Homo sapiens: one gene and its partners. The protein of the gene in region 5 purifies or fractionates together with the protein of the main gene of each other region. This does not show direct contact. Each region holds a gene or a part of one and is shown on either strand. Other genes may lie near its edges. The genes, in order: RUFY1, MCFD2, ATF2, WASHC4, CAPZA1, PLS1 and ARHGAP1.

What was found.
Region 1: the proteins of CAPZA1 (region 5) and RUFY1 purify together in Homo sapiens (affinity purification with mass spectrometry; 2 studies listed by BioGRID, with this or other methods). This does not show direct contact.
Region 2: the proteins of CAPZA1 (region 5) and MCFD2 fractionate together in Homo sapiens (co-fractionation; one large-scale study listed by BioGRID). This does not show direct contact.
Region 3: the proteins of CAPZA1 (region 5) and ATF2 purify together in Homo sapiens (co-immunoprecipitation; one large-scale study listed by IntAct). This does not show direct contact.
Region 4: the proteins of CAPZA1 (region 5) and WASHC4 purify together in Homo sapiens (affinity purification with mass spectrometry; 2 studies listed by BioGRID and IntAct, with this or other methods). This does not show direct contact.
Region 6: the proteins of CAPZA1 (region 5) and PLS1 purify together in Homo sapiens (affinity purification with mass spectrometry; one large-scale study listed by BioGRID and IntAct). This does not show direct contact.
Region 7: the proteins of CAPZA1 (region 5) and ARHGAP1 fractionate together in Homo sapiens (co-fractionation; one large-scale study listed by BioGRID). This does not show direct contact.

Annotation. Positions count from the first base shown.
Region 1 is NC_000005.10:179,599,054-179,602,553, reverse strand, and holds part of RUFY1 (RUN and FYVE domain-containing protein 1), read right to left. Parts: intron 3,287-3,500; exon of another isoform or gene 3,165-3,286; intron 3,070-3,164; exon of another isoform or gene 2,919-3,069; intron 2,482-2,918; exon of another isoform or gene 2,456-2,481; intron 663-2,455; coding exon 568-662; intron 491-567; exon of another isoform or gene 288-490; intron 178-287; exon of another isoform or gene 1-177. UniProt on the Homo sapiens protein: Activating adapter involved in cargo sorting from early/recycling endosomes. Regulates retrieval of proteins from endosomes to the trans-Golgi network through interaction with the dynein-dynactin complex.
Region 2 is NC_000002.12:46,909,307-46,912,806, forward strand, and holds part of MCFD2 (multiple coagulation factor deficiency protein 2 isoform A precursor), read right to left. Parts: intron 1,568-3,500; exon of another isoform or gene 1,474-1,567; intron 1-1,473. UniProt on the Homo sapiens protein: The MCFD2-LMAN1 complex forms a specific cargo receptor for the ER-to-Golgi transport of selected proteins. Plays a role in the secretion of coagulation factors.
Region 3 is NC_000002.12:175,119,704-175,123,203, forward strand, and holds part of ATF2 (cyclic AMP-dependent transcription factor ATF-2), read right to left. Parts: intron 1,838-3,500; coding exon 1,741-1,837; intron 1-1,740. UniProt on the Homo sapiens protein: Transcriptional activator which regulates the transcription of various genes, including those involved in anti-apoptosis, cell growth, and DNA damage response.
Region 4 is NC_000012.12:105,159,731-105,163,230, reverse strand, and holds part of WASHC4 (WASH complex subunit 4), read right to left. Parts: intron 3,231-3,500; coding exon 3,083-3,230; intron 483-3,082; coding exon 386-482; intron 1-385. UniProt on the Homo sapiens protein: Acts as a component of the WASH core complex that functions as a nucleation-promoting factor (NPF) at the surface of endosomes, where it recruits and activates the Arp2/3 complex to induce actin polymerization, playing a key role in the fission of tubules that serve as transport intermediates during endosome sorting.
Region 5 is NC_000001.11:112,668,332-112,671,831, reverse strand, and holds the end of CAPZA1 (F-actin-capping protein subunit alpha-1), read right to left. Parts: intron 2,290-3,500; coding exon 2,227-2,289; intron 1,937-2,226; coding exon of another isoform or gene 1,841-1,936; coding exon 1,700-1,840; 3' UTR 216-1,699; downstream 1-215. UniProt on the Homo sapiens protein: F-actin-capping proteins bind in a Ca(2+)-independent manner to the fast growing ends of actin filaments (barbed end) thereby blocking the exchange of subunits at these ends.
Region 6 is NC_000003.12:142,686,893-142,690,392, forward strand, and holds part of PLS1 (plastin-1), read left to right. Parts: intron 1-2,725; coding exon 2,726-2,921; intron 2,922-3,500. UniProt on the Homo sapiens protein: Actin-bundling protein. In the inner ear, it is required for stereocilia formation. Mediates liquid packing of actin filaments that is necessary for stereocilia to grow to their proper dimensions.
Region 7 is NC_000011.10:46,690,620-46,694,119, forward strand, and holds part of ARHGAP1 (rho GTPase-activating protein 1), read right to left. Parts: intron 1-3,500. UniProt on the Homo sapiens protein: GTPase activator for the Rho, Rac and Cdc42 proteins, converting them to the putatively inactive GDP-bound state. Cdc42 seems to be the preferred substrate.

The DNA of each region.
Region 1 (3,500 bases), on a different chromosome or scaffold from region 5:
CAGGCGTCCACAGCAACCTATCTAGACTGGGACACCAAGGAGGAGAGCTGTCAAGTCAGAGGGGAGCAGAACTACCAGGGTCTGCACCCCATCAGCACCTGCAGCAGAGACAGACAGACTCTGGCGGATGCAGTGGCCAGTTCCCCGAAAGGAAGGGGGCTGTGCTGTGCAAGGCGGGTGAGTGCACCTCTACTGTGCCAGGCTTCCGTTCCCAAACCAGCCCTGCTCCCTCTGGCCTGACTGTAGGCTGACCAAGCGATCCTCTCATTGCCCATCTGTTCCCTCAGGCCCTGGATATGAAGCTAAGGAATAGGAGTGTCCTGGTCACTAGGAATGAACGTGCTTCCTGAATTAACTAAGAGCTCGCTGACACCCCATGTGGGTAGCAGAGATCAGTGCTGGGCCCCTCTGAGGCCGGGCTTCCTGAGAGCTCATCCGTGAACGGCGGACTGAGCTCCTAAATGGCCCACCCTCCGTTCGCCAAAAGGAGGTAGGTTTGGGGCCTGAGGGATGTGGTGGGTAGCCTGGTGTGCCTGCAGTGGCAGACAAGGGGAGTGGGGTTCTTACTGGCTGAGGTGCAGGCCCATTTCCTGGAGGGCTTGTTCCTGCTCCTCGCAGATCTTCTGCAGCTCTGCCTTCTCGTCCTGAAGCTCCCGCAACTCCTAAAATGAACAAACCAACCAGATGCTGGACAGAGGATTACACGGTCCTTTTTTTTTTTTTTTTTTTTTTTTTTGAGACAGGGTCTTGCTCTGTTGCCAGGCTGGAGTGCAGTGGCACGATCTTGGCTCACTGCAACCTCCGCCTCCTGGGTTCAAGCGATTCTCCTGCCTCAGCCTCCCAAGTAGCTGGGACTACAGGTGCCCGCCACCATGCCCTGCTAATTTTTGTATTTTCAGTAGAGACGGGGTTTCACCATGTTGGCCAGGATGGTCTCAAACTCCTGACCTCGTGATCTGCCCGCCTCGGCCTCCCAAAGTGCTGGGATTACAGGCGTGAGCCACTGCACTGGCCTTTAAAAAAAAAAAAAAGATTCAGCAACCAGAGCAACAAGCAGATCAGAATGTTTTTCAAGAGCAAAAGGTGGCCAGGCACAGTGGCTTATGCCTATACTTCCAGCACTTTGGGAGGCCAAGACAGGTGGATCACCTGAGGTCAGGAGTTTGAGGCCAACCCGGCCAACATGGTGCAACCCTGTCTCCACTAAAAATACAGAAATTAGCTGGGTGTGGTGGCAGGCACCTGTAATCCCAGCTACTTGGGAGGCTGAGGCAAGAGAACTGCTTGAACCCGGGAGGCGGAGGTTGCAGTGAGCCGAGATGGTGCTACTGTACTCCAGCCTGGGCGACAGAGCAAGACTCCATCTCAAACAAAACAAAACCAAAAAAAAGAGCAAAATGCAGTCCTGTATTAATGTCATTCAAGATTATTTCTTGCTAGCTTACTCTTGACACTGGGCAGCTAAAAGGCAAGCACTCGACGAGGGCTCTGCAGCTGGGGACAGAGACATGGGACAGGATAGTTACATTCATCAGCCACATTAAAAATAGTTACCCTCAGCTGGGCGCAGTGGCTCACACCTGTAATCCCAGCACTGGGAGGCTGAGGTGGGCGGATCACCTGAGGTCAGGCATTCAAGACCAGCCTGGCCAACATGGCAAAACCCCTCCTTTAGTTAAAAATACAAAAATTAGCAGGGCATGGTGGCACATGCCTGCAATCCCAACTACTCGGGAGGCTGAGGCAGGAGAATCGCTTGAACTGGGGAGGCGGAGGTTGCAGTGAGCCGAGATCACACCACTGCACTCCAGCCTGGGCAACAGAGCAAGACTCCGTCTCAAAAAAAAAAAAAAAAAAAAAAAAAAAAAAGTTACCATCATAGGACAAATGAGGCTTTGCCTATTTGAGCTTCTTTTTAAAAGATAAACATTTTACAAAACAGATTGCTATCTCAAAAAATCTATAGAAGAACTGTACACAAAATCACACGAACCTTGCATCAGCAAAGACTAGTTTGAAAGGTGGTTTCCTGTTCAATTCTGAAAAAGCTGCTTTTTTGGAAAGCACTGGTCAAGGATGATGAAGGGGGTGACCTGGGACCTCATTTCATGGCTAGACCACTTGGAGGCTGGCTAGACCATGTGAGGAGCCCTGCACGGAGGGAGTTCCCCAGGGGGCAACGGCACTGACACCTGGGGCCAGTGCACCTTGAGCCAGTCTGTTAAGGCCAGGATGGAGACCCAGAAAGTAACTGGGGTTTCTGGGACCACTGGGAGCAGCGGTGGAGCTCGGGCCCGAGTGGCGGGGTGGCTCTCTGCACACCCTGTGCCGTAGCTTCTGCTTCCATGCACAGGCTTGCAAAGCACAAAGCTGTGGCTTAACTGGGGTTATTAGACATTGTTTTGTTCCTATTGTTGGGGCGGGCTGTAATTGTGTAATTCGAATCTTTTGACAGAAGCATTCTGAAGCAGAATAAAGGAGGTATGCCCCGTGATGAGGCGGGACTTTCTGAAAGTCCTCTTCTGCCCTCCACTTCCTCCCTTCCACTCTCCAAGCCTGATCTGGCTCTTGAGGAAGCTCTCCCTTCCCCAACAACTCCAGGCACTTTCCAATGGAAATCAAAAGGGCCTTTCCTGACTCGCTCGAATCGTGCAGTGTGTCCATTACCACGTTCAACACAACAAAATCCAGGTCCAGAAGCCACCCTGGCCCTGAAGGCCCCTCCGGGGCAGGTGCCGAGGGGAGGTCTGCTTTGGGCTCAGTTTTCCTGCAGCGCTCGGCAGCGCAGGGGCCTGAGAAGAGGGCACGCCATCCCCACGTGGGAGGAGCCCCCCAGAGCGCCCCAGGCTGCAGTCAGCTCCATCCAGGATCGCAGAGCCTCCTCCCCTCTGGGAAAACAGCCGATGATTTTACATTAGGGCAAATGTTCCACACGGCCTCGGAGTTTCCTGGGAGGTCCAGTTCCACAGCCAGACAGTGAAGGCCTGCTGGACCCCACTTCTCTCGCCCTCTGAAGCCCACAGCATCCAGGCCATGCCTCCAAGTGAGAGGGTCCTCCATGGAACTGAGGTGATGTAGGGGAAGTGGAGGGCTGGGGTCGGTCTGCTTCCCAGGGATGACCCGACCCTGGGCACAGTGGCTGAGGTGAGGCTGGCATGTGGTAGGAGATGTTTACTGGTTCCTCCCAGCTTCCTCTCCTGCGAGCCTACCACCCACTCTCCACACAGGAGCCAATGACCATCCGCAAACAGAACGGATCCTGTCCCTCCACCAGCTGCCCACTCTGGTAAAATAAAACCCACGTTCCTTCCCCTGGCTCCCAGGGCCCATGAAGGGCTTCCTCCTGCCTGCCGCCTGAGGCCGCCTCTTTGCTCCTCACACTGCTGTCTGCTCCTGCAGTCTCCACCCAAGAGGTGCTTTGCAGGGCATAACTCACTGGAGCCTCTGCTCACCGGTCGCTCCCTCCCCAGGCCCCTTGCACACGGGTGAGGACACTGTTC
Region 2 (3,500 bases), on a different chromosome or scaffold from region 5:
GCCCAATGCCAGCTCTGCTTTGAGACTGTGGGATGACCCTGGGCACTCCAAGTCACTCAAATGGCAGGGGAAGGCTCACGAGGTTTCCTGAAGTGCCTGCAGAGTGCCAAGCAACACGTGAAAGCTTGAAGGGACTGGAAGATTATTCTTGCCTCCCAGAAGTTATGGTCCCCTGAAAGAAATATTTTCTATCAAGAGCACCAGGAAAGGCAGCCAGCAAGTTATATCAGATTATCAGAGAAAGCGAAAACCCTCTAGGAGTTCAGGGGAAGAAATCTCCTCCGAGTGGAGGAAAATCAGAGAAGGCTGATAGAGCTGGTGACACTTCAGCTGGGCCTGGACAGATATGCAGGGACTGAAGGACCACAGGAATGGTGGGAGCAGAGTGGCAGGTGCCCACAAGCGGGAAAGAAACTACAAGTAGTTCAGCTGGGCTGCAGCCTAGAGGGTAGGAAGCAGACAGGACAGAGGTGGCTCCAAGGCCTAGACAGGCTGTACTGGACAGGGCTTTGCACACTAGGCCAGGGCTTGACATCTCCTGCAGAGAAAGACAGGAGAGTCACTTACAATTCATGAATGGGAGGTGAGATCAGAGCTTGGTTTCAGAATGACTCATCTGGCAGCACAGTGGGGAAGGCATGAAGTGGCAAAAGCAAGACTAGAGGCAGGAGCATGGTAGCCAAGGGAGTGGTAAGGCGGGTCAGATCAAGGTCTGCGGCAGCGGACAAGGTTCTGTACCTCCTGGGTGGTAACAGTGGCAAGTAACTACAGTGAGCGGGCACTGGAAAGAAAAGTTACAGAGAAATCAGGATGCCATCAGGAACTCCCAGGGTTTGGCCACACTTGGAATTGTGGTCAATAAGATGACAGTCAGCTACAGAGCAAGCTCTTGGAGGGCAGGGAGAACTTTAACCCCACCAGTATTACCCGCCAAGGGTCAGGCAGGCCTTTAATAATTGTTGATTCAATGGAAAGTCTTGGTCTGTCCTAGGGCTGACAGACTGACCTCAAAAAGGAAGGTGAAGGACAGCCAGGTGACCTACATACAAAAACAAAAGACCTGACCGAACACTCACTTCCCAACAGGCAAAACAGATTCTGCTAGATAACAAGGCCAGGGATTTCTAACAGGTCAATTGTAGTCCACAGCCCCAAACCAGCAGTGGTAAAGACAAACCATAAGGCACTGGTCATCCCCTTTACATGCTACACACAGGGCTCAGCTCAGAAGCTGTAGCTGTCTTTGTGCCTGGGGCTGAGAGGTAGAGGTGTTATAGTCCCTCTTACCCATCCTAAAAGGCTCTCAGGGCAGAACCCTGAAAGTGTGAGTATGCCACCCTACAACACTTAGAAAAATTTCCCAAATCCGTTTTTCCCATTACCAGTATTGCTTCCCATGGCCCCCTCCTTAAAGGGGACAATAGTCACTGGGATGTCTAACTTCCAGGATAGGCCAGGCATGGTGGTTCATACCTGTAATCCCAGCACTTTGGGAGGCTGAGGCAGGAGGATCACTTGAGGCCAGGAGTTTGAGATCAGCCTAGACAACACAGTCAGACCCCCATCTCTACAAAAAATAAAAAATTAGCTGAGCGTAGCAGTGCACCCCTATAGTCCCAGCCACTCAGGAGGCTGAGATAGGAAGATTGCTTGAGCCCAGGAGTTCAAGGCTGAAGTACACTCCAGCCTGGGTAACAGAGTGAGACCCTGTCCTCCACCACCAAAAAAAGGAAGAAACTTCCAGGGTGCTAAAAAGCACCTAGAATCTAGTCTACTTCTAAACAGTGACATCAAAATGCAATCTGTCTCAGACCTTTTATTTTTTAATTTTTATTTTTTTGAGACAGAGTCTTGTTCTTTCGCCAGGCTGGAGTGCAGTGGCGCAATCTTGGCTCACTGCAACCTCCGCTTCCCAGGTTCAAGCAATTCTCCTGCCTCAGCCTCCCGAGTAGCTGGGATTACAGGTGCATGTCACCACGTCCAGCTAATTTTTGTGTTTTTAGTAGAGACAGGGTTTCACCATCTTGGCCAGGCTGATCTCGAACTCCAGACCTCAGGTGATCCACCCGCCTCGGCCTCCCAAAGTGCTGGGGTTACAGGCATGAGCCACCGTGCCCGGCCACCTCAGACCTTTTATATCTGTAGTTTAAAAAAAAAAAAAAGCAATATGTCATACTTAATAGGAAAGAATGCTCAATATATATTGAATGAAAAAGAACAGGCTGCAAAAAAGCAATAAAGAATAATACACTTTTGTAAAATAAAAATGTGTATTTCCTACACAAACTAATAACAAAGATTATCTTGAGACATGAGATTAGAATTGTGATTTTCAGCCGGCATGGTGGCTCGTGCCTGTAATCCCAGCACTTTGGGAGGCCGAGGCGGGCAGATCACGAGGTCAGGAGATCGAGACCACCCTGGCTAACACGGTGAAATCCCGTTTCTACTAAAAATACAAAAATAAAAATTAGCCAGGCGTGGTGGCGGGCACCTGTAGTCCCAGCTACTTGGGAGGCTGCGGCAGGAGAATGGCATGAACCCGGAGGTGGAGCCTGCAGTGAGCCGAGATCTGCTACCATTTTTTATGAATATGTATTCAATGTAATCTATCCCATAATTTTGTCCCAATACTATATGGATCGGATACAAAAGGAGTTTCCGGTTAATTCTTATCTCCACAAAATAATTCAGAAACAGTCAGAAACTACACTTCCAATTTTACCAAATAAAAGTGCCCAGACCTTGGCCAGGGACAGTGGCTCACATCTATGATCCCAACACTTCGGGAGGCCGAGGCAAGTGGATCACTTGAGGTCAGGAGTTTGAGACCAGCCTGGCCAATGTGGCAAAATGCGTCTCTACTAAAAATACAAAAAAAAATTTGCTGGGCATGGTGGCGTGCACCTGTAATCCCAGCTATTTGGGAGGCTGAGGCACAAGAATTGCTTGAACCCGGGAGGCAGAGATTGCAGTGAGCCAAGATCACACCACTGCACTCCAGCCTGGGCAAGAGAGTGAGACTGTCTCAAAAAAATTTTTTAAACGTGTCCAGACCCTGACAAGGCCACTGCCACTGTACCTGGTACCACAAAACAAGGTTTCAGGTTACTCCTAGCAGTGACTGCCTAGGCCATAGCAGAACAACTTGTTCTGACCACACATCTTAGAGTTCTGGGACAGGAAGGATCAGAGAAGGGAATCAAGCTCCTCCCAAGCCTTTCAGACTCATTTACATCAAATGTCTCTTTCTCCAGTGAGGTCTTTTCAATTCCAAGTCTGGTGTAGGTATTCGTCCTGCAGGCTCCCAAGTGCTTCCCTTCAGAAGGCTCCCGTCCACAGCTGATGACAGCTGCAAATTAATTCTTTTTTTTCTTTTGTTTTCTTGTGTGTGAATGAATTCTTGAAAAACTGCCTGATTACTTGTCAGTGCCCCTTGCTGGATGGGCTTTAAGAGGACTTGGACTGAATCCACATTCCCAGTATCAGGCACAGTGCCT
Region 3 (3,500 bases), on a different chromosome or scaffold from region 5:
TGTATTAGCTTAAGTCCATCATGACTAAATTAGTAGGTCAAATCTAAATGTGACTCTTCTGTTCACACCCAAAGGGTTTGTCTATCTAAGTTCATCAGAAGGCTCTTAACTTACATTAAAGGGAGGGGAAAATCTTAAAAAAATAAAATACATAAGCATAAGTCACTTTTATCAATGATTACTGGAACCATCAGACTTCAGAAAAGTCAACATAGGCACAATCATTTAACATGCACATTGCATATGGCTACTGATCACCAAAAATATACCACACACATCATGCATTTTATTTGCATAGTAATGTTAACCTATTCATCTCAACATGTTAGTGAAAAAAAAGGTCAAGTACTGTGTTTGAATGTGCTCTATTTTTCTACTGCATTAAATGTGATCAGACAGGAAAGTAATTTCTAGAAACCAATTTCAAAACATATTTGAGTTAAAGAGTTACACACAGACAGAGATTGTGCTAAGGCAGAAAGTTTCAGAGAAACAAAGAGCTTCATGCCTAGGAGAGTGAACTTTCGAGGTTGTTACTATTTTGCTTGTTTGGTTCCTTTGGTTCTAGCTCTTAATGTCTAATGTAAAATACTCCAAAAAAAAAAAAGCATTATCTCACTCTTCTGTATAAGTAACATATCTCTAAGTTACTTATGGAACTTAGTTAGGATATGTTGGAAGTTCCCCTACATTTTTCCTACGTATATTGTTTTCGATAAATTAACTTTGTTACCTTCAATTTCTTCATTACAAAAATTTCAATACTGTAAGTAGAGGGAAAACCACCGAATATTTGCTTTATTATCTATCCAAAACACTGCATAGAACAATTTGGTCTCTATACTGATTAATAATTTAAAAGTATTACAGTATTTGGGTGTAATTCCAGACTTATATGACATATAACAAGCTTTACAAGAGAAAAGAAAAATCTGGAGTTAATCTGAATATTTATGATATGTAAATCTGTGATGACACAAAGGATCTGAAATTTATATAGTTTTGTTTTATCATAATACTTATAAAATATACAAAAAAGTAGCAAAATTATACATGACATATATGTATATATACATAGATGTGTGTGTGTATATATTTAAATACCAAAAAAAGGCAGCTAATACAGCATGGAATGACAATCAACCAATGTATGAACTGGGTTTTTCTTTTCACATACAGTGAAAAATAATCATCTGCTTAGGTGATACTGTACGTTCATAGTGTCAACACACAAAAACTGCATTGACTGAATTTAGAGCCTCCTTACTGAGAATATTTTACTAATACAAATGTTTAGTCTGAAAAGAAATATAAACAACTCTAATGAACAAGTCTGCTCACTGTTCTTTCTCCAATGGGAGAAGCTTGATCATTTTCTATCTTCACACAGCCTTGTAAGTCAGTTGTACAAGACAGCTAAAAGAAATGCTGACTAAATACCATGTTAGTTCAATTATTAGTTAAATGTAAAATTTGTAGATGGTATGAATGTTCCCAGAGTTCTAATGAACTTCCACAAAATCGACATTGGAATATAAATTTGAAAACCACACAAAAAAATGAAATGAATAGTCAGAAGGAAACATGAAAATGTAATGGGTAAAATACATGTTGCCAACATTTACTATAATGAAGTCATTGGAATATCACCAGACTATATTATTTACAGAGAATACACAAAAATTGTGCACATTCCAGGTGAAATATGTATACAAGCTATTAATAAAAGCATATACTAACCAGCCACAATGACACTGTCATTACGTGCTGGACCAAATTTCAGTGTCATCTCATGTTTATGTTTATGGACAGCCAAATGATCCTCGTTGGTAAAACGCTGTGGCAAAAAGTTTTAAAATATAGTTAAGATTTTCAATTTGATCAAATAAGTAAAATGATTAGGAAATTAATTTCCACAACATGTAAAACCACCATTAACAGTGAAATAGCAGTTTTTAAACTATAAAAGAATCCGTTATTGTTAGTAGATAGCACACTAGATTGCAAACAATCACAGAGAAACCTATTACTCAAGAATAAGCAATACTGATATATTGCTAGGTCACATAACTCATTTGAGAGCATTTAAAAATAAAATTGGAGGCAAAGAAACTTTATATAAATTTCTTATGGATACTAAAAATAGACCACCATTAATTTGTCTTATCATAGTAGAAACTATACTCCATGGTTCAATGACTTTTCAAGAAAGTACTGTAGTATTAATATTTACCTAGACTTAAGGTTACTTACCACTTTTTAAAAGAGAATTTTCTTATAAAAGTATTACGCCTGGACAAAATTTAGAAATAAATCTGATTTTTATGTTACCACATAAAAAAGAATGCCTTTGTTTTAATCCAGCAAAGAAATAGCAACCGATACAATAACAAAACAGCTCATTTTAAAATAAAAAAATTTAAAGTAGCCAAAATAATTTTTTCATGAGAGTTCTTACATAAAAATGGAGCAAAGTTGTTTTTAGAACATTTTATTTTTAAAGTTATCCATCATATTTTTTCCTACCTCTAACTTGGATAAGTTTTGCATGCCAAAGGTAACATTTATGATTACAACATAATAAATGCATTATCTCCAATGTCTGAACATCAACATTTTTGAAGATGCTCATTAAGCAACATTTATAACTGAAAACAGGGAGCTGTTATTTCAGAGCAATAATTTTAAAATGCTAAGTTAACAGATCTCAATTCACTCTTTATAACCTTACAAGTGAGGATGTTAAAATATATATACTTGAACTTGGTTTGCCCAAACCATCAAAATGAATTCCATTTCTTGTGGTCTCCTTCCCCTACCCAATTCACTACATCCTTTCATGCAACTAATAATAGTAGCTTTAGGGTTACCTTAAACACAATGTAAAAGAATGAAACATTTTTAACATTTTAACATCTTTGGCCCAGTCCACTATCCGTCTGCCTGTAGAGGTGAAAATCATCTCATGTGTGCGGCACAATGCCTTGGTTATAGCACCTATCATATTTTCATATGTCTGTCCTTTTAAGTAGGCTGAGCTCCTACCGTGGTCCCCCAAACTTAGCATATAGTTAAGTACTCAATAAATGCTAACTGAAAGAATGAATTCATTACAATAAAATAGATGAATCTTAAAGATCAATCTGAGGGGGCTAAAAAAGACCCTAAACCATTGTTCATTAAGATGAATTCAACTTCAATTTAATCTTGCTACATTTTATCACTTAGTCTTTGGATTACTTCACATGCCAACAGAAAACTATTATTTTATAACCTCTCTTCAGAACCTGCCTGTATTACCACTGAAGGAGAGTGTTCAGATGCAACAACACTTCCACTACTTGACATATTCATTCACTCTTCAGACATTTACTGGGCAGCAACTATAGGCAGTAGGACCACAATCAAACTTTTCCCCACCCAGGTACTGTCTTCCTATTACTTTATCATTATAAGAATCTCCCCCAATTTTGGAGAAATAAGAAACAGTGGTACTTTTG
Region 4 (3,500 bases), on a different chromosome or scaffold from region 5:
ATCCCAGCACTTTGGGAGGCTGCGGCGGGCAGATCACGAGGTCAGGAGATCGAGACCATCCTGGCTAACACAGTGAAACCCCGTCTCTACTAAAAATGCAAAAAAAATTAGGCAGGTGTGGTGGCGAGTGCCTGTAGTCCCAGCTACTCGGGAGGCTGAGGCAGGAGAATGGTGTGAACCCAGGAGGCGGAGCTTGCAGTGATCGTGCCACTGCACTCCAGCCTGGGCAACAGAGCGAGACGAGACTCTGTCTCAAAAAAATAAAAAAGAAAAAAGAAAGAAAAATCTATAAAGAACATATAGACCTATTCTCAAGCAGATGTTTCTAAGAATCCATTACAAGGTCAATATAAAATTAATGGAAAAACAATTCCATTAAGCTTACCCATGGCAAAGCCATCATCAGTAAAGGCAGCTCCAATTTTATTTTTTTTATTTAATTTTTCCTTGCAACTAATGGAATGCTCTACAAAGTTGAGGGTCTAAAAAGATGTAACAACATGTTAGAAAAACAATTTTGCTAAGAAAATCTTCAGAATTCCTATAACAGACATTTTAAAAATTATAAATAGAATCACTATAAATAGAATAGAATAGAATCTAGATTCCTGTCCTTTTCATCTGAAACATTTGCCTTAGGTACCCTCTTGGTGAAGATACAATCTATACAAGTGTATCTTCATGGATCTCCTTTCCAAGTCCTTTAAATATGGGCACTCCCTCAATCACTACTTAGCCCAAGAACAGTGCCTTGTATATCTCATTATAAAATATTATGCACATTTTACAGAGAAGGACACCGAGGCTTGGGAGATTTATTATCTCACCCAAAGTCATATATTAAGTGAATGCTGGAGTTAGCAAAGTAGGCCTGCTTTATTTCAAAGCACAAGTACTCTTAAAAACATATGCAAGACAGTCCTTACTTACACCTACCTAATTCATTCGAAAATACTATTTCTTTTCATGTTCTTAAGTGTGAATCCTCAAAACAGTACGTCTCTTGAAAATTCAGCTCTTCCAAAATGACTTATCTAATCATATCTTTTATTCAACAAAGATTTACTGAAGCTTACAATATACCAGGCATTATTAAGTACTTATGATTAAACAAATGATTTCTATCTAGAGTTCACAGTCTAGAGCAACACTGTTGGCAGGGACAGAAATGTGTATCTGCACCATCCAGTACATACAGTAAGCCACTAATCACAAGCGGCCACTGAGCACTTGAAATGAGGCTAGTGTGACTGACAAGCTGAATTTTTAATTTTTAAAAAGGTATTTTTATTTTTTTCGCCCTGCCTTATGATTTTAATTTTATGAAATTTTAATTAACTTAAGTAGCCACATGTGACTATACATGGATAGCACAGCTCTAGAAGAGTAAATGCAGAAGTGTTTAAAAACTAATTATGATATACAGTGTGCTAAGTACTATAATAGCCTACGCTGGAAACAAAACCAAGTTTCATTTTTTTGACTGTGAAACTTATTCAGCAATTAATCACCTGTTTGTGAATTTTTTATCAATCATTAATTCAATCTTTTTTAGAAATCTCATTTATGCTTGTCTTTTTTCTGGAACTACACTACAAACACAAGTACAAGAACAGTATTCTATACTTCTTTGTAGTGCTTTTAATCCACTTTGTTTTCTCCATCACTAAGCGAATTCTGACAACTGCCTTGTAAAACTCCAGACTTTTTCCTAAGCTTACCAATGGGTTAACTGCTGTCTACAATGGTTTGAGTACATTGCCCTTCAAATTAAAAAAATATGGTGAGAACTCACCCCAAGTTAACTATAGTATTACCAAATATGACACTCTCCCTCCAGTTTGACACTATCTTAAGATGAAAAGATTCTTACAAGATGAATATGAACATTTTTTGCTATATCATAGTTAAAATACAATTATGATAGAAAATTAACAAATGTATAAAAGAAACAAAATTCATGGAAAAAAGCTGTTTATAGGCTATTAGCTACTTTCAATAGGTAATAATGGTTTTAATATGTAAGAAGATGTGTTAACAACTTGGGCAGCAATATGAAAAGTCACTATTCTTGATCAAAATTAAATATAATAAAGAGCTTCATCTGCTGGGTGATATTTAGATTTTAAAGCTATCTACTTACAATTTTTTTTAAACTTTATAGGAACCTTAAGCCAAAACAACTCTTATTACTAATATATACCTCTCAAAAATTCTTAACTCCATTTTCCCTAATGGAACAGCTGTTTTTATAATGCAATTTTTGATAACTTGAACTATTTTTAGATAGCAACTACAGAGTTAGAGCAAGAACACGTTACATACTCTAAGAAGCATTAAAAATTTAGTCCAGATGTTAGTATTTACTACTGAATAGAAAGAAGTTATCTTGAAACAATATGCTTTAAGAAATGTGTTAGAAAAAACTATAATAACAGCTAAAGTTATTCTACATTAAGCACTTAAAATGATTATATATTAATAATTCTGCCCAAAGATTCTATGGCATATACTCATATAACTTAAAAAATACTCAAATTTCTCCAGTAATTATTTAAAAAAAATAAGAATCTATCTTAGGCCATACGTGGTGGCTCATGCCTGTAATCTCAGCACTTTGGGAGGCCAAGGCAAGAGGACTGCTTGAGCCCAGGAGTTCAAGACCAGCTTAGGCTACACAGTGAGACCCCATATCTTAAAAAAGAAAACAAATTACCAAAATTAGGCATGGTGGTGCACACCTGTAGTCCCAGCTACTAGGGAGGCTGAGGCAGGGGGCTGGCTTGAGCCCAGGAGGTCAAGCCTGAGTAAGCCATGATCACACCACTGCACTCCAGCCTGGGTGACAGGGCAAGACCCCATCTCAGAAGAAAAAAAAAATTTAACAATAAGAAAGTGTCCTTCAGCATGGCTAACAAATAAAAAATTCTATGTCACATTCACTGAGATCACATTTAGTTTTATATGCAACCAGGAAATTAATAGTGTAGTCTGTATGCATTTCGTGTTACAAAGAAACCAGATCTATTTGTGCATACTCTTTTTAAAAAAAAAATTCATTTTAGGTTCTGGAAATACTCACCAGAGGGGGAACAATTATATAGAAATTTCGGAGATGTATATTCTTTGGCCTTCGAAATTCTGGAGCAAAAACGTCTACAAGCATTTTGAAATATTCTGTGCCTTCGGCAGAATTTCGTGTGTGATCACTGAGGACTGAATCCAAATGCCTAAAAAGCAAAAAATTATTTGGTTCCTTTCTCAAAAGAAGCGTGGCTTTGAAAAAAATCCATCTCTCAATAGTTTAGATAAGAACACTTGAAAAGCAGGAAACACTGTAAGACACTTCTAAGAAAATTTTCTTGGAGTTCAGAATAAACTTATTTTCTCATGGACAGAAAACTGATCAATATTAGTAAATTTAGTCCCAAAAATAGACTATTAGAACATCTTGGGACTTAAAATAATAGTTCTGTATTTCTTCTTCCCACAGTGAGGCC
Region 5 (3,500 bases):
CTTTGAGTGAAGAGCAGTATGATCCATAGACATTGCTCACGCTTTAAAAAGCTGTTCTTTGCAAATCTGTGGATATTCAGAGTCTATAAATAGTTGAAGGTAGAAACCAATTTTAGAAACCCTAAACATTCTCAACATAAGATCAAATACAGCTGAATATCTTACCTTGAGAACCAAGGCTGAAGCGATGAATCAAAAAGGAGAGACTCAGACAATTTTAGAACAAAACAGGTATATTTCTATTAGACTACCTGATACAGAAGATAGTGTGGTATGGATGGATAGTATGAAGGACAAATAATACAAATATATTTTATTGAAATAAACAAAAATGCATACACAGCTCAATGGGTCACCTGGAACAAACTTGCTTGACTATATTACTGAGCAGAAACAAAACGGAAGCACAAACACCTTTCTTTTTTTGACATGTATCTGGAGATAGGTAGGAAGACACTACTTGGTTTTTTAAAAAACTGACCTTCCCTTAAGGCCTGGTCATAGAAGTGTAAACAATGTAAATGAATCCACCATTACCAGTTGTCATATCATATCTATGTCACCTGTGTATTCTGAGATTACACACATACCTGCCAATATACCTGGGAAAGGTTATTTTATCACAGTTACACTTGAGTTCTTGGCAGGCAGGACTGAGGAAGAGTAATTTGAAAGAAGTTTTACATCCTATTTAGAAGAAATCACTAGTATTTCCTTAAATAACAGGTTACAATAGAAAGATACTGCCTGGAAGTTATCCTTTCACTTTGGTTCATTTTTAGTTTTTCTTTATGATTTACATAGCTGTTTAATTCATTTGCTTATAGTACAATCCTGCCATAAAGTATTAAAGCACAAGATACCTATTATTCCTTCAACATCTGCATTTTTCAAGTTTTATACTCTACATCCACAGTACGTCAGCAGTTCTTGAATGTTTAAAAAAATAAATGGGTAAAATGCTTCTAAAAAATGCAGATGTTTATAACTACAATGGTACTAAGATGGGAAGGAGACAATGAGAGAAGGGATAAAAGCAAACATGTTCATGTGCAGGGAATGTGGTTCAAGTCTTTGGATTTAAAAACAAGTTCCCCAGAGAAGCTGGCACTTCCTTTGCCCTCCAAAAAGGACCTGAAAAGTCCCAATCCAAACTTTAGAAAATTAGTTATGAGATGCAATAAATGATGATCAAAGCAGTCAGAGGGAGAAGGATGAATGTGTCTTCCATTTAGCTAGAGACTGTAGCATAGCCTCTTTAGGTGTTGGTGGATCAGTAAAAACGACTGAAGTACCAGAAGTGCTTGGAAGGATAGGGGTACAAAGTAATGACCATAATACCTTGTCTAAATCAGTAGCAGGGCTTCATGGCTAGGAAACTTTTTTAAACAGTAAAATGTCATTAGGATAGATCACTCTCTCACCAACATTAAATGTGGCAGAATTAACCAAAAAAAAAAAAAAAAAAAGAAAAAAAGATTTACACGTAGATATAGCAGTAACAGAAAATTACAAGGCAGAGAACACAAAAGAATCAAGACAACGCTATAGGTTCAACAGTATTCCATGAGGCTAGAAAACCGGTTAACTTTGAAAGCCCTAGCAAAATATCACTCTTGTTTATAAATCACTTATTTATCATATGACCACACGTTGAATCCTTGTCTTTCCACATACTGAAGAATCCTACATTCAGCCTTTAAGCATTCTGCATTTCTTTGCCAATCTTGTAGCTGAGTATCTTGTTCCAGTCGATTTTGGTGCGGGTAACTGGAAGCTGCCGGCGCAAGGCCTTGAATGTGGTATCTGACATTGTTTGATAGTTTTCACTAATTGCTGTCTGCAATAGATAATTGAAGATGAGTTGCTTGAACAGAAATGGGGCTGGTTGTGAACAGAAAAGTAATGCTATAGTCAATGGATATGCTTGAGTCCCCTGTGAAGGATAGACAGGATATATTATTTTCAATGAGCTCCTCTCCAATCTCTGAAGTAGGTCAAGAAGTTCACCTATATTATTTCTAAAATGAGGGCTACAGTCCCAAGCAATCCTCAAACCCTGACTGTAAGCAGAATGCCAACTTGGAAGGTCTGCAAAGTCTCCCACATTTAGTAAAACTGAAGAGCATGTATATTTACATTAAAGGACACAAGGCCTAACAAAATATGCTAACAGCGAAATAATAAGATAGTAGATCTAGGAAAATTAACTCCAAATCTTCTTACCTGATACTCATTTTCTGCATTCTCTATGATTTTAATAAACTCCTTGGCAGTTTGGGCTTCATTCTAATGAAGGAAGGAAGAAGGGGAAAATCAGATTTTTTTTTAATGTGTAAGCAGTAAGATCCTGAAAGTAAGTCCATCTTAACTAACATTTGTATGACAATTTCTAGTTTTCCAAGTGTTCCCATGCCCACTACCCTCCTTTGATTCTCACAACAACTCTATGGAAGACACTATGTTATAATCATAACCCCCATTTTGCAGATGAGAAAACAGAATCCTCTTAAGCAACTTGACCAGAATTATACAGCTTTTGAATGATAAAGATGGGATCTGAAATTAGGTCTTCACCAAAAAAACCCATGCTGTTTCCACTCTACCACAGTACGCCCAAAAGACATCATCAAGTCTTGAAACCTTGATGCCTTGAAAATATTTCTGGTTTAAAATGGTATGAACAATGCCCTTGGACACATCAGTCATATACATAAGCTCACATATGCCTTTATTTGCCACTTATGATGTTAAACTAGCCAATCACATTTTGTACCACGTGGTTCAAGTCTAAAATGAAATGAATCTCCCTCTTCCTGTTACCATTAAGTACAACAGAATTAAAGGGAAGAGGGTAGGATTTAATATCTAGAGCTGCAGTCCTAAGACAGACTATGAGGTCAAAACTATTTTCTACTTTCATAATAATACTAACACAAAGTTATTTGCCTGTTTCACTTTCACTCTGTAATGTGTGTATGATGTAATTTCCTAGAAACTACATGATGTGTGATGACTTTATCACTTTCAGGGATAATGAAAGGTATGAAGCAGAGGCCAGGTACAGTGGCTCATGTCTGTAATCCCAGCACTTTGGGAGGCCGAGGCAGGTGAGGTCAGGAGTTCAAGACAAGCCTGGTCAACATGGTGAAACCCTGTCTCTACTAAAAATACAAAAATTAGCTGGGCATGGTGGCAGACACCTGTAATCCCAGCTACTCGGGAGCCTGAGGCAGGAGAATCACTTGAACCTGGGAGGTGGTGGTTGCAGTGAGCCAAGACAGTGCTCCAGCCTGGGCAACAAGAGCGAAACTTCATCTCAAAAAAACAAACAAACAAGCAAAAAACAACTAATATCACAATAAAGTCCGCCATCTTTTAATACACAATTTGTGAAGACACAGACTAATGCCATTCTTCCCACTATTTTTTTCTTTTGATTTGGAAAATATATTCACAAAGATGTTACTTATTAACAAGTAATGGGTTTGTTATCATTA
Region 6 (3,500 bases), on a different chromosome or scaffold from region 5:
GTGCTCTTTTGACTGTCAGCATATGCCAGGAAAGGAAGCAACAACCTGTTGTTAGATTTTTAAGCAATCAATTATCAGTTTTACCAGCTTATATTTAGAAATCTACAAAATAAAAATAGATATTCATGGTGTAGGAAGGACTGATACAGATTCTGACCTACCAAGCATACTTCCTAGGAATCTCATTCTTTTAGCATAAGTTATAAATACCAGGGATGGTTCTATCTAAATCAGGATGTCCAGTCTTTTGGCTTCCCTGGGCCACATTAGAAGAAGAATTGTCTTGGGCCACACATAAAATACACTAACACTAACAATAGCTGATGAGCTAAAAAAAAAAAAAAGGTGCAAAAAAATCTAGTGTTTTAAGAAAGTTTACAAATTTGTGTTGGGCCACATTCAAAGCTGTCCTGGGCCGCATGTGACCCACCGGCCGTGGGTTGGACAAACTTGAATTCTAAACATTAAAATTTGGTCAGATAATAGACTGTATGAAAATATATCACGTACTTAAAGTGCGGCGTCCGTAACATTTGGTTTTAAAGGCAACTTGAGTCATTACTAATTAATTATATCTCACATTATTATAATGACATATTTCAGAAACACAGTATTGCAACGCTCTGTAAAATGTGCAAATCATTTTAAGTAAAAAAATTAGGAACTTAAACTTATGGAAAATTTTGAATATATTCAAGAGAACAGACTTAGTATACTAAACTATCAGGTACTCATCCCTCAGTTTCAACATCTGCCAATTCATGGTCAATCTTATCTCGTTTATTCCCTATTTCTCTCCTCTCCTATATTATTTTGAAGCAAATCCTAGACATTACTTCATGGATAAATATTTCAATATATATTTCTAAAAGACAAAGACACTTTTAAAATAAAACCACAATACCTTATCATACCTTAAAAAAATTACAACAATCTGTAACATCATCAAAATATCTAGTCAATGTTGACATTTCCACTTGCCTCATAAATGCCATTTTTTTCATAGTTTATTTGAATTAGGATCTAAAATAAGGTCCACATGTTGTCTTTATTTGTTTGTTTTTTTTTTTTTTTAGATGGAGTCTTGCTCTGTCGCCCAGGCTGGAGTGCAGTGACACAATCTTGGCTCATGGCAACCTCCGCCTCCTGGGCTCAAGTGATTCTCCTACCTCCACTTCCTGAGTAGCTGGGATTACAGGTGCACACCACCACACCTGGTTAATTTTTGTGTTTTTAGTAGAGACGGGGTTTCACCATGTTGGCTAGGCTGGTATCAAACTCCTGACCTCAAGTGATCCGCCTGCCTCTGCCTCCCAAAGTGCTGGGATTACAGGCATGAGCCACCACGTCCAGCCACATATTGTCATTTTTTGATGTCTACAATGGTAACTTTTCTTTGTTAATTTAATAATCTGTTGCTTTCTCTGATTTCATTTATATGATTAATTATTTTGCAACTCTGGTGCACAGAATTAGGTAGGTTATCTTTGGTCATGATATACTCATATGGGTCTGTGCATACCCATTTTTAAATTTATTTTTGTGTGTGGTTGTTTGTTTTGAAATTGTAACAAGCCTCATGAACTCTCAATCTAACAGGAAAACTAAAACTTTGACGTGACATTTTCTGTACAGTTCTTCCCTATCCCACCTCGGTTTTCGCCCAGTGTGGTAACCACAGTCTTGAATCTTGTGTTCATTGTTGTTCTGCTTTTCTTTTTATGTAGTTTCCCTTCATCCAAATGTATCCCTTACAAAATTAAATTCTTCATTTTACTTTTTAACTTCCTTTAAAGTTTATCATGTTATACTTAAATTTCTAGTACTTCTTTTTGGCCTTGTATCTCTAAGAGTTACCCATATTGGATGTCATTGTGTGAATATACAAATTCATTCATCTACTCTCCTGTTTATAGGTATTTGGGTTGTTTCATTTGTTTCCAGGGTTTTGCAATTGTGAAAGGTGCTTTTCCCTATGATTTTAATTTTTAAAATATGTATTTCAACTTGTTTTTCATCAAGAAGAGCCTTCTGGAAATGTCACTCAGTGTACAGTGGGTATGATAACTATGCCTGTTATCCAGAGGGCACTCTACTAGCTGGTCTTGAATAAGTTATCTATAGTGCAACCAGTAGGAGCTTACTGATACAATATTTGAGGATTTTGCTGAGTATTTTAGCAAAAAGGGTAAAATATAACTCAGTTATCCCAGCAAGGAAATTCAGAGACTTTTTTCCTTTTAACTTAAAAGGCACGGGGGCTGGGCTTAGTGGCTCACGGCTATAATCCCAGCACTTTGGGAGGCCGAGGTGGGCGGATCAGGAGTTCGAAACCAGCCTGGCCAACATGGCAAAACCCTGTCTTTACTAAAAATACAAAAATTAGCTGGGCATAGTGGCATGTGTCTGTAATCCCAGCTACTCAGGGGCTGAGGGAGGAGAATCACTTGAACCTAAGAGGCAGAGGTTGCAGTGAGCCAAGATCACGCCACTGCACTCCAGCCTGGGGAACAGAGCAAGACTCTGTCTCTAAATACATAAATAAATAAATAAATAAATAAATAAAGGAATGGGTAAGTTGACTTGGAATTACTACACATTTTGATCTTATTTTGAGTTATTATTTGATATATTTGTGGAAAAGTAATTGCTTATAAACATGTATACCAATAAAAATTATGCCAATTAAAACTTCAATTGTAACCATTTTTGTTTTATTGTTTAGGAGACAAATGACCTGAAGCGTGCTGGACTCATGCTTCAAGAAGCAGATAAACTGGGCTGCAAACAGTTTGTTACTCCTGCAGATGTGGTTTCAGGCAATCCTAAACTTAATTTAGCTTTTGTAGCTAATTTGTTTAACACATACCCGTGCCTGCACAAGCCGAATAATAATGACATCGATATGAATTTACTGGAAGGTGCGTTCTTTCTGCCTTTAATTGACTTGCTATATTTATCTTCTTATGGTATTGTCTTACTTCACTGTCAGAGATAGGGGATTGTGGTGGGAAATGCAATTTAGTGTGTGTAGGTATGTGTATCTATTGAAAAATTAAAATTATGGAAGGTGGTTGCTGGTTTTGGTTAAAAGAGAATGCTGGGGTAAATCTTTTATTTCTCCATAAGAGGTTAGTGAAAACTATCATACATTTAAAATATTCTCATAAATGATCACATAACAGCTCTACCACCAACATGGACAATGAATTATCTATTAGAATAAAATAATTATTTGTAGGTGTTTTTCTCCTTTGAAAGGTCCAGTTTGACTCTAGTATTGTTCTCTTTTTAAGGTTTTTAGTGTACATGAAAAAAATTACAGTGTTCGTTATTTGTCTTTTGTGTGGTCTATCGTTATCTGTCTCATAATATATAATACTTTCCTGTTTTGCTTCATGAAATGCAGATTTGACCCCTCCTAATGTAGGTACTGTATTTAGTACTTTTCTATACTCTATAAATATATTCATTCTGAATGTTCTTTTTATTAGTACCAT
Region 7 (3,500 bases), on a different chromosome or scaffold from region 5:
CCCCCACCAACCCTTAAGACTCAATGCAGGCATAATCGCCGCCTGGAATCCTGTGTCCTCGCCCTCTCTCCCCAGACAGGTTAGCTGCCCCTTTTCATGGCTCCCAGCATAAACCGTCACCCATCACTGTCCTGACCCTTCACTCTCCTGTAGAATTGTTTATGTACCTGTCTCCCTGACAGGCTTGTGAGCAGCTCAAAGACAGAGGCTGTGTCTCATTGTCTTTGTTTGTTCTTTTTCTTTGTTTACTCCTGGCAAGCTGTGATTTTTTTTTTTTTAAGAGACAGGGTCTTGCTCTGTCACCCAGGCTGAAGTGCAGTGGCATAACTGTAGCTCACTGCAGCCTTGAACTCCTGGGCTCAAACAATCCTCCTGCTTTAGCCTCCCATGTCCTGAGTAGCTAGGACTACAGGCACATGCCATCCCACCTGCTTAATTAAAAACAATTTTTTGAGACAGAATCTTGTTATGTTGCCCAGGCTAGTCTTGAACTCCTGCCTCAGCTTTCCAGTAGCTGGGATTACAGTTGCGTACCATGGCACCTACAGTCTCCAGTACTGGTCCAGTGTCTGGCATGTGGCAGGTATTCAATACGTTTTGGTAGCCTGCACAAAATCGCAGGTCACCATTAAACTATGGGATGCCTGGTTCTAGTTATATTTCTGTGTTTGTTCTTCTTTTTTTTCTGAGATGGAGTCTCTATCATCCAGGCTGGAGTGCTGTGGAGTGATCTGGGCTCACTGCAACCACCACCTCCTAAGTTCAAGAGATTCTCCTGCCTCAGCCTCCCAAGTAGCAGGGACTACAGGCAGGTGCCAGCACACCAGGCTAATTTTTTTTTTTTTTTTTTTGAGATGGAGTTTTGCTCGTTACCCAGGCTGGAGTGCAATGGCGCGATCTCGGCTCACTGCAACCTTTGCGTCCCGGGTTCAAGTGATTCTCCTGCCCCAGCATCCTGAGTAGCTAGGACTACAGGCATGTCCCACCACACCCAGCTAATTTTTGTATTTTTAGTAGAGACGGGGTTTCACCATGTTTGTCAGGCTGGTCTCAAACTCCCGACCTCAGGTGATCTGCTCGCCTCAGCCTCCCAAAATGCTATGATTACAGGTGTGAGCCACCATGCCCAGCCTTAATTTTTGTATTTTAGTAGAGACAGGGTTTCACCATGTTAGCCAGGCTGGTCTCCAACTCCTGACCTCAGATGATCTGCACGCCTCAGCCTCCCAAAGTATTGGGATTATAGGCATGAGCCACAGCACCTGGCCTCTGTGTTTGTTCTTGATTATGCTTTGGTTATGGGTCAGACTGCTTCAGATAGTGAGTTTCCCAAAGCTCAGGACAGAACGTCTCCAGATTTGCAAGTAGAGAATCCTCTACCAGCTTGTCTGCAGAGGAGGTGCAGCTCCATCCCGGCAGGTCTGTTTTGAAGGACCAGGTGGTACCTGCTCTCTTTCGTACCCTAGCCTAGATCCTGAGGTGCTGAGATCCCGGAGGCCAGCTGGGGGTGGCTCTGGGGCTATGTGCCTGCTCTGATTCACTTCCCACTGGCTCTGACAGTGGAAGGAAAAGCAGACTGGCAGGGGCCAGGGACAAAGGGTTAGACTGGCAAGCCCAGTCTCACTAGTCTGGAGCTTCAGAAACCCCAGAGATGCCTACCACCAGCCTGGGAAGAGGGGGCCTCATCTGCCTACCTCCTTCTAAGCGAGGAAATAACCAGGATTTGGGGGAAATGCTCGAGGACAATGGGGGCTACCAAAAGGATCTTTCCTTCCAGCCCATGAGTCCCCGCACCTCACATCTGCACCAGCAGCAAGGCAGGCCTCATTGGCTGGCAGATTTGAGGATTCAGCCAGGGCAGAAAGTCTGTGAGGCCCCTGGGTCTAAAATATAAGAGGTAGCAACTGGTTAGGGAAGCTGTTGGGGGGAGGGCTGGAGGCCTGTGGTGTCTCCTCTCAGCTGGCCACAGCACTTTGTAAGTGGGAAGCTTTGGGTTCTGAACCAGGGCTCCACCAATGTGCTCAGCAGACACAGCACCTCCATGATGTTATATGACAAATATTACAAGCATGTGCACTTTTTTTTTTTGAGACAGTCTCGCTCTGTCGCTCAGGCTGAAGTGAAGTGGCGTGATCTCAGCTCACTGCAACCTCTACCTCCTGGGTTCAAACGATTCTCCTGCCTCAGCCTCCTGAGTAGCTGGGATTACAGGCATGCACCACCACACCCAGCTAATTTTTTTTTTTTTTTTGAGACGGCGTCTCGCTCTGTTGCCCAGGCTGGAGTGCAGTGGCACGATCTCCGCTCACTGCAAGCTCCGCCTCCCGGGTTCACGCTATTCTCCTGCCTCAGGCTCCTGAGTAGCTGGGACTACAGGCGCCCGCCACCACGCCCAGAAAATTTTTTGTATTTTTAGTAGAGACGGGGTTTCACTGTGTTAGCCAGGATGGTCTCGATCTCCTGACCTCATGATCCGCCCGCCTCGGCCTCCCAAAATGCTGGGATTATAGGGATGAGCCACCGCGCCTGGCCTTAACCCCAGCTAATTTTGTATTTTTAGTAGAGACGGGGTTTCTCCGTGTTCATCAGGCTGGTCTCGAACTCCTGACCTCGTGATCCACCAGCCTTGGCTTCCCAAAGTGCTGGGATTACTAGGTGTGAGCCACCGCACCTGGCTGCACTTTTTTTTTTTTTCAGTCAAAGAGATCCCCCCTATCCTGGGGATACCTTTCATAGTTGCAAAGTGGACTGTGACCAGTTTTAAGAACCACTTCACTAGACTGTAATCTTTTTTTTTTTTCTTTGAGCCAGGATCTTGCTCTATCACCCAGGCTGGAGTGCAGTGGTTCAATCATAGCTCACTGCAGCCTCCAACTCCTGGACTGAAAGGATCCTCCCACCTCAGCCTCCCAAGTAGCTAGGACTACAGGCACAGGCTACCACACCTGGCTAATTTATTGTTATTATTTTTGTAGAGACAGGGTTTCACTATGTTGCCCAGGCTGGTCCTAACTCCAGGGTGGCCCTGGAGTTAATCACCAACAGGTCTCCCCAGGCATTCTGGGCCCCCTCAAACCAGCCCCACCCACAACCGGACCAGCAGGCCTGGGACCTGGGAGGTAGGGCTGGGCTGATGGAGCCAGTCATGTGCTACAGCCAGCTCACACATTTGTTAAGCTGTTCAACTGTCAGGAATTTTGCAAGCCAGTTGACATCATGTTGGTAGCTAGAGAGCTGGGAGGCAGAAACTGCAAATGCTACAAATCATGGCCTTTTTCCCCCTCTCCAGAGAGCCATTTACCAGCACACCACTGGAAAGAACCCACTGGGACTGAGCCAAATCTGACCCTGGGGCATGACAACTATTCCCGGCAGGGAGAGCTGAGGCTATAACCCACCCTCCCTTCCTACAAGGGCTTCTCCCGGACATCTCCACGGTCTCACCAAATGAGTGCCTGGTGATGCCAATCCAGCCTCCTCTCAGCAATCAGGGAGGCACA